Linked DNA regions of Homo sapiens. The protein of the gene in region 2 purifies or fractionates together with the protein of the main gene of each other region. This does not show direct contact. Each region holds a gene or a part of one and is shown on either strand. Other genes may lie near its edges. The genes, in order: SMARCAD1 and ZNF578.

Region 1 (3,826 bases), on a different chromosome or scaffold from region 2:
ATATTAACCAAGACTTCTGGCCATTGATTAGGGAAATTGCTATTTTCTTTCCCATTATATTTTGGCTGGTTTCCAAACCAATCCAAATATAGAGTTATCACCTACTTAAAGTTACTTCATAGAGCATATGCACTATGAAAACAACAAAAGAGACCTAACAGAAGAATGGCCCAGATAAAACACAAATAACATATTTGGGAGAAAATATGCATTTATGCTTACTGTCTTAGAGGAAAACATTCTTCGTATTTCACTGGTGCTACTACTAAACATGTGTGGCATAACAAAATTCAACAGCGACATGAGTTCTAACAGATTGTTCTGTACAGGTGTGCCTGTGAGCAGCAAACGGTTATTTGCCTGTGAATGAAGGTAAAATTTATATTAGCTTTTTCTTAAAGAGCCACTCCTTTCATGTCTATCCTCCCCAGTGAAAGGTGAAGGGAGGAGAGATAAATTAAAACCATTATTAATAATTTAACATTCTGTGATAAATGATATAGTAATTTAAATAATTGACGTCCGCTATTATCAACAGCAATGAATACGAAAACCATTGGTCTTCTTTTATAAGTAGGTAACTTGTGTCCTCGTATCACCTTTATGAGATGATGAAAGATTATTTATAAATAGTTTAACATATAGAACAGGTAAATTATGGCTTATGACCTAATAATTTTTTAAAGGGTTGTTAAAAAACAAAATCAAAGAATACGTGACAGAGGCCATCTAGTCCATAAAGTGTGAAATATTTACTATCTTCCCTTTTACAGAAAAAACTTGCTAACACAGAATACTACATATATTAAACTACATAATACAGATTCTGCTAATAAATACTACATATATTAAATTACGTAATCTAAATTTTACAGTAATTTGGAAAACTTTACAAACATTCTCTTACATTAATTGTCATAAGGTGCTGGTAGCGAATGGAGCCCATATTCTTCAGCATATGGCCCTCATCAAAAATTGCGTAATTAAGTTTCAGCCGTCGAAACAGACTACGGTCATCAGAACTGCTGATCGCACAGTTATATCTGTCACCAAAAGAAAAAACATCTCTAAGGTTATACCTTTAAGAGCTTGGAGTCTAGTGAAATTTAATGTCTTATAAAATCATTTTTTATTTACACATTTCTAACAGCCAGTACTTAAAGCACAGCACTAGACACGGGTGATACTCAAATAAATACTGACGTACTTGTATTTAATAATTATTGATGTACACTGTAACCAAGCTATGAAAGCTGCAATACATAATTGAAAGAAAATGTTAAAAGGCTGGGAGCGGTGGCTCACACCTGTAATCCCAGCACTTTTGGAGGCCGAGGCGGGCGGATCACGAGGTCAGAAGATCGAGACCATCCTGGCTAACACGGTGAAACCCTGTCTCTACTAAAAATATAAAAAATTAGCCGGGTGTGGTGGTGGGCGCCTGTAGTCCCAGCTATTCAGGAGGCTGAGGCAGGAGAATGGCGTGAACCCGGGAGGCAAGAGGTTGCAGTAAGCTGAGATCGCGCCACTGCACTCTAGCCTGGGGGACAGAGTGAGACTCCGTCTCAAAAAAAAAAAAAAAAAAGAAAATGTTAATGTTACAATCGGACAACTTCTACATACCCAGGAGGAGGTCAATTTGGGTATAACTTGTAAGTAATCTGCTCCATGAAGTGTTATATTTTAATAAGCACAAAAAAGAACGTGAAGCTAAAACATGTTTCTCTTTAAAACTTAATATTTTATTAAACTAGCAGATTAGATCCAAGAAATAATAGTTAATAGCTAGCAGCTTGAGACTGCATATGGAGCCTGTTTTATTAAGAAAAAATAAAATTCCGCATGAATTTTTAAAGGACAGACTCCTACACAAGAAGCCAGTAGAGAGAAATAATAACTACAGTTAAAATAGAACTTTAAATAAATCAACTAATGTAACACAAGAGCATTAAGTTCTGTGCAAGATATTTACATCAATTATTACCAAGTAGTATTATTAGTATTATTTTTCATTTTTATTTCTGCCCTAACTCAAATTTTTCATTGAGAAAATGAAATTTCATTGTATTTATTACAGATACTTATTTGTAAGTTAAAAATATAAATAATTTTGGTGGGATATCTCAAATTTTACTTTAAGCTTAACTGAGAAATTACTATTACAAGACGACTTTTTTCAATAACTAGGCAAAACCTTTTTATAGTCACCATTAATGAGGTGATTCACTAACAAAAACCTCCTATATGGGTATTACACACCAAACTAAAAAATGCCTGAATCCTCAACATTAGTCATTCTATTACTTTCGTATCACAGTTAACAGCATAAACTTTCCTACATAGTACTACTACAATTTCTTTTTTAAATTTGGGGGCTGCATAAATATCCATCCTCCCCAAATTTCTCAATACTTACGTGGTCACAATTACATTGTAATCTTCATATCTACTATGAATGTTAAATCTAATTTGTTTACGTTCTTCTTGAGAACCTAGAATTTAAAAACAATAAACACATGACTATTTATTGTGCTGTACTTTATTTTTAATTTCCAAAGTTAAAAGCAGAATGACATATTCTTACCATAGTAACAGAGGACCTTCAAAGTAGGGCACCATAAATTAACTTCCCTTAACCAGTTATCTATGGAACAGAAGAGACATTATTTGCATCTGCTACAATAGGGTATGTTCACATGGTTAAATTAACACTAAACTTTGACAAGTGCTACTCAGAAATCAGTCTTTTATAAAAAGTAAATACTGGCCCAGCAAGGTGGCTCATGCCTGTAATCCCAACACTTTGGGAAGCTGAGGCGGGTGGATCACCTGAGGTCAGGAGTTTGATACCAGCCTGGCCAACATGGTGAAACCCCATCTCCACTAAAAATACAAAAATTAGCCAGGCATGGTGGCGGGCGCCTGTAGTCCCAGCTACTCGGGAGGCTGAGGCACGAGAACCTGGGAGGCGGAGGTTGCGGTGAGCCAAGATTGAGCCACCACACTCCAGCCTGGGTGACACAGCGAGACTGTCTTAAAAAAAATAAATAAAAATTAAAAATTAAAATATAAATACCATGGCGATTGTTTTTATCACAGACCCTTTACAATATTACTCCTTATGAAACCTATGTAAAATGATCTTGAGGTTTTGTGAGGCATCAAAATGAAGGGCAGATGACCAAATATTATATTTACAGTTGATTATTAACCTCCAATTTAAAGAGAAGGGGGTTTTCTTTGTTACATTCACATGTACAAATATTCTCTTATTCTAACTTCTACATCCAACGAATTGAGAAAGAATGGAACAGTTATGTGTGTAGGAATTAATTACGTATCTGTTTAATTCTACATTTAAAAGTACTCATTTTCTCTTAGTCACTTTTAAAAGTAACTAAAAGTATTATGAAACCAACATAAATCGTCCTTGGTCTAAAATTTTAAAACTGACTTACATTTGAGTTCTTTTTAAAAGACTGCCAATATAATCAAACACACATATATAAACAAAGGAGAAAAGTATAAAGAGACCATAAAATTAATATTCATCTCTACAAACTAAGAAACCACAACACCCCTCCGACACACACCCTTACACACACTCTCTTCTACCTATATAAAACATGATAAAGTTAAATACAGTTGTCTCCAGTATTACAAACCTATAGTTGAAGCTGGAACAACGATCAAATGAGGACCATTATTACCCTCCTGATAGAGGTATGCCAGAAATGCAATGGCTTGAATAGTTTTTCCTAGGCCCTAAAAAGTTTAAAAGACAATATATAACATTTTAAAACAAACAAAAAATAAATACATAAAA
Region 2 (3,826 bases):
AGGATGCTGAGAAACTGGAACATTTGTGGACAGTTGGTGAGAATGTAAAATGGTATACCCATTACTGAGGTCAGTAAGGGGGTTCCTCAAAATATTAAAAACAGTACTACCATATAATCCAGCAATCCCACTTCTGGGCATGGGTGTGTGTAGATATTTTATACATCTATATACATACACACACGTATATATATTTGTGTGTGTATATACACACACACGTACATATTTGAAAATATACATCTGGCCAGGCACGGTGGCTATGCCTGTAATCCCAGCACTTTGGGAAGCTGAGGTGGGTGGATCACGAGGTCAACAGATTGAGACCATCCTGGCCAACATGGTGAAACCCCGTCTCTAATAAAAATACAAAATTAGCTGGGCATGGTGGCACGCACCTGTAGTACTTGGAAGGCTGAGGCAGGAGAATCACTTGAACCTAGGAGGCAGAGGTTGCAGTGAGCCAAGATCGCACCACTGCACTCCAGCCTGGTGACAGAGTAAGACTCCATCTCAAAAAAAAAAAAAAAAAAAAAAAATATATATATATATATATACACACACACACACACACACACACACACACACACACACATATCTACATATACACACTCATACCCAGAAGTGAGACTGCTGGATCATATGGTAGTATATATATGTGTGTGTGTGTGTGTGTGTGTGTGTGTGTGTGTGTGTACATACACATTAAAGACTTGAAAGCAGGCCCTCAAAGAGATATTTGCAAATCCCTGCTCATCACAGCATTATATACAATAGCCAAGAAGACAGAAAAACCAACATGCCTATCTACAGATGAATGGATAAAGAAAATGTGTTATACACATGCAATGGAATATTATTCAGCTTTATAAAAGGAGAAAATCCTGTCATATGCTACAACACGGATGAACCTTGAGGACATTACACTAGGGAAAATAAGACAGTCACAAAAGGACAAATACTATGTGATTCCACTCACGTGGGATACTAAAGTAGTCAAATGCATATAAACAACATAGAAAGATGGGTTGACAGAGGCTATAGTGAGGTCAGAAGGGATATAGTGTATTCTGGGTATACAGTTTCAGTTTTGCGAGATGAAAAACTTCTAGATATGTTGCACAGTAACGTGAACATACTTAACATTACTGAACTATAAACAGGCAAATAAACTTTACTAAAAGACATAACAAAGAGCATCATGGACCGGAAAACCCAATTCTTATTAGCAGATGTGGTGACACAAAGACCTCTCTGACTAGGAATCCACAGCCATTCAAACACAAAAGAAATATATGAGTTTTTAATGACTGTGCCCTGTGAAAGGAGAACCATCACAATTTTGAAAAGAAAAACAAAATGGAGGGGTTTTCCAAATATGTAAGAACCTCTTATGACAAACATCTGTAATTTTACAACAAATCAAATACTTATGATATACGCAAAAATTCAAATTAAACACAAATGTAAACAAAATTTTAAACAACAAAACTTTATTCCTAAATGAAACTTAGTACTTCATAATCATGCAAGGCCTTCCAAATCAAGATGAAACAAACAAAGGCACAACAAAAATCAGAAGGTATAAATGAAAGATTTGTCTTACAATTAAAAAATGTATAACCTGAAATAAAAGACATCAGGGCATATGAAAGAAATAAAAACCACAGAAATTAAAACACATACTAAAATACATGGAAAGAAAATTGAGCAAAGCATGAAAATTCATTTTGTATATACATGTCCCCAAAATAATAAAACCTATGTAGACAATAAATTGAAAAATGAAAATACAGAGGGTTGTCATTTTTCCCAGATTTTCAAAATATATATATATATAAACATAGTAGCAAGTTGTTGTTTTTTTTTTAATGAGGGCAAAATTTCACATGTTCTTGATAGGAGAGGTACCCCTGCAGCTGGGGATAACAGGGGAACCTTGAGAGATCTAAGAAAATAGGAAATGCCCCATCCTAGAAGAAGTATTACCCAAGTCTTACCATTTTCACCTGAAACATCTGTTTCACAAGAGTCTCTGCAGGAATACCACAATCTCCATAGGATGGATGTACTTAGAATGGTTTAAAGAATCTCTTGCTGTTAAACATTTACTACAAATGGAGTATAAAATCAGGCAGAAAAGATTTCCTCTTCCTAATCTCTTCTTCCAAATTTTATCAGGCAGTTGTGCACATTAAGACTTCCACGAGCAGCTTCCATAATCCAGTCTACAGAGCTGGCAGTGCCTCCAGACCTGGCCCTTAAACAATCCTTCAATTCCTGCTGCCCAAGAGCAGTGACACCATGGGGCCCACACCCCGTCTCCATCCATGTCTGGGTATAAGCCCTTCCCAATGGAGCCTCTTCACAAATTCCACAGCACCAGTCACTGTGAGATGGAATTTAAGTGACATCAGAGGGCCTGAGGGAAGACATGGGTGAGTGTGAGCAAACATCACAGGCAGCATGCTTCAGACTCAGAGAAGACTGACATCTCCAATGCCTGATGTGTACAGGGAAAAGCTCTCCTCAAATTGTGCTTTTCCTCTACTCTCACACCACAACAATCATCAACATAGAAGACCTCTGTGACTAAATGTATGTGGGTACTTTCCCCACACACCAAGCAGCAGACACTAGCTGGGTATCTTCCAGTTTAATTCCAACACTATCTACTGTGTACATTAAGACTGGAGACGTCAGATCCCACGAGTTGATGGCTCAGTCTCCAAGATTGCCTCCATACACACCAGTCGCAAGTCCAGGCCTTCAGAACTTATGACCACCCAGCTTCAAACTGGGGTTCACACGACCCCCTCTTCAATTAATTTGCTAGATTGGCTCACAGAACTCAGGGAAGCACTTACTTACCTTTACCAGTTTATTATAAAGGATACTGCAAAGGATACAGACGAAGAGGCACCTACAGCAAGGTATGGAGGAAGGAGTGCAGGGCTTCCATGACGCCCCTGGGCTTACTACCTCCAAGAACCTCCACGTGTTCAGCCATCCAGAAGCTCATCGAACTTTGCCCTTTTGGGTTTTTATGGAAGTTTCATGACATCAACATTCTTCCCCCCAGGGTACAGGGTGGGAAGCTCTCGGAGGAGGGTCTTAAGACCCACAATTAGAAAGGCTGGGGAGCATCAGAGTGAAAGGAAGGCAAAAGAAGGTCAGAGGCCTACCCCTGAGGCTTAACACATCCAACATTACAACAAAAGATTGTAACAAGGGCTATGGAGGTTATAAGCCAGGAACCGTCGATGGAAACCAATATATATCATAACACCACACATGGCATTTCAGAAAGGAAGGAGACACACAACAGTCCACTGAGAATATCACTGTACCTAAGAGGCATTCCTGACTCCTTTTCTTTCCTCTTCCTCCTCTTCTAGGCTTCTTCCTTAGGAGAGATGAAAGAGACTTTAGAAGCTAATCCTGAAAGAAAAAGAAAAAGAAAACTTTTTAAAAAACAAGTTAATCCTGAGTGTTCAAAATATGCTGTTTACTGCTCAAAATCAACACACCCCCTCCCTGTGCCACAACCACATACACAGGAAAGACCTCGCCCTGTGGAAAGATGGCCCTCTGCTGCCCACAGCACCAGGGATGATGCAGACAAGAAAGTCCTACAGGAAGAACAAGTCAGTTTTTGAGTTCTTCAAAGCTTACTCCCCACCTGGAGAAGCCCACATACATGCTGCAGCTGTGGGGTGCTGGGCTGGACTGAGCTCCCCTTCAGGGCACAGATCTGGCCCTGACCAAACCCCATGCAGAGCACAGCCTCTCCCCTCTCTGTGGATCACAGGCCGATATCAGCTTTCAG

Evidence for each region.
Region 1: the proteins of ZNF578 (region 2) and SMARCAD1 purify together in Homo sapiens (co-immunoprecipitation; one large-scale study listed by IntAct). This does not show direct contact.

The regions. Positions count from the first base shown.
Region 1 is NC_000004.12:94,273,556-94,277,381, reverse strand, and holds part of SMARCAD1 (SWI/SNF-related matrix-associated actin-dependent regulator of chromatin subfamily A containing DEAD/H box 1), read right to left. Parts: intron 3,766-3,826; coding exon 3,666-3,765; intron 2,645-3,665; coding exon 2,585-2,644; intron 2,493-2,584; coding exon 2,417-2,492; intron 1,044-2,416; coding exon 908-1,043; intron 361-907; coding exon 223-360; intron 1-222. UniProt on the Homo sapiens protein: DNA helicase that possesses intrinsic ATP-dependent nucleosome-remodeling activity and is both required for DNA repair and heterochromatin organization.
Region 2 is NC_000019.10:52,456,480-52,460,305, reverse strand, and holds part of ZNF578 (zinc finger protein 578), read right to left. Parts: intron 3,630-3,826; exon of another isoform or gene 3,570-3,629; intron 3,439-3,569; 5' UTR 3,348-3,438; intron 1-3,347. UniProt on the Homo sapiens protein: May be involved in transcriptional regulation.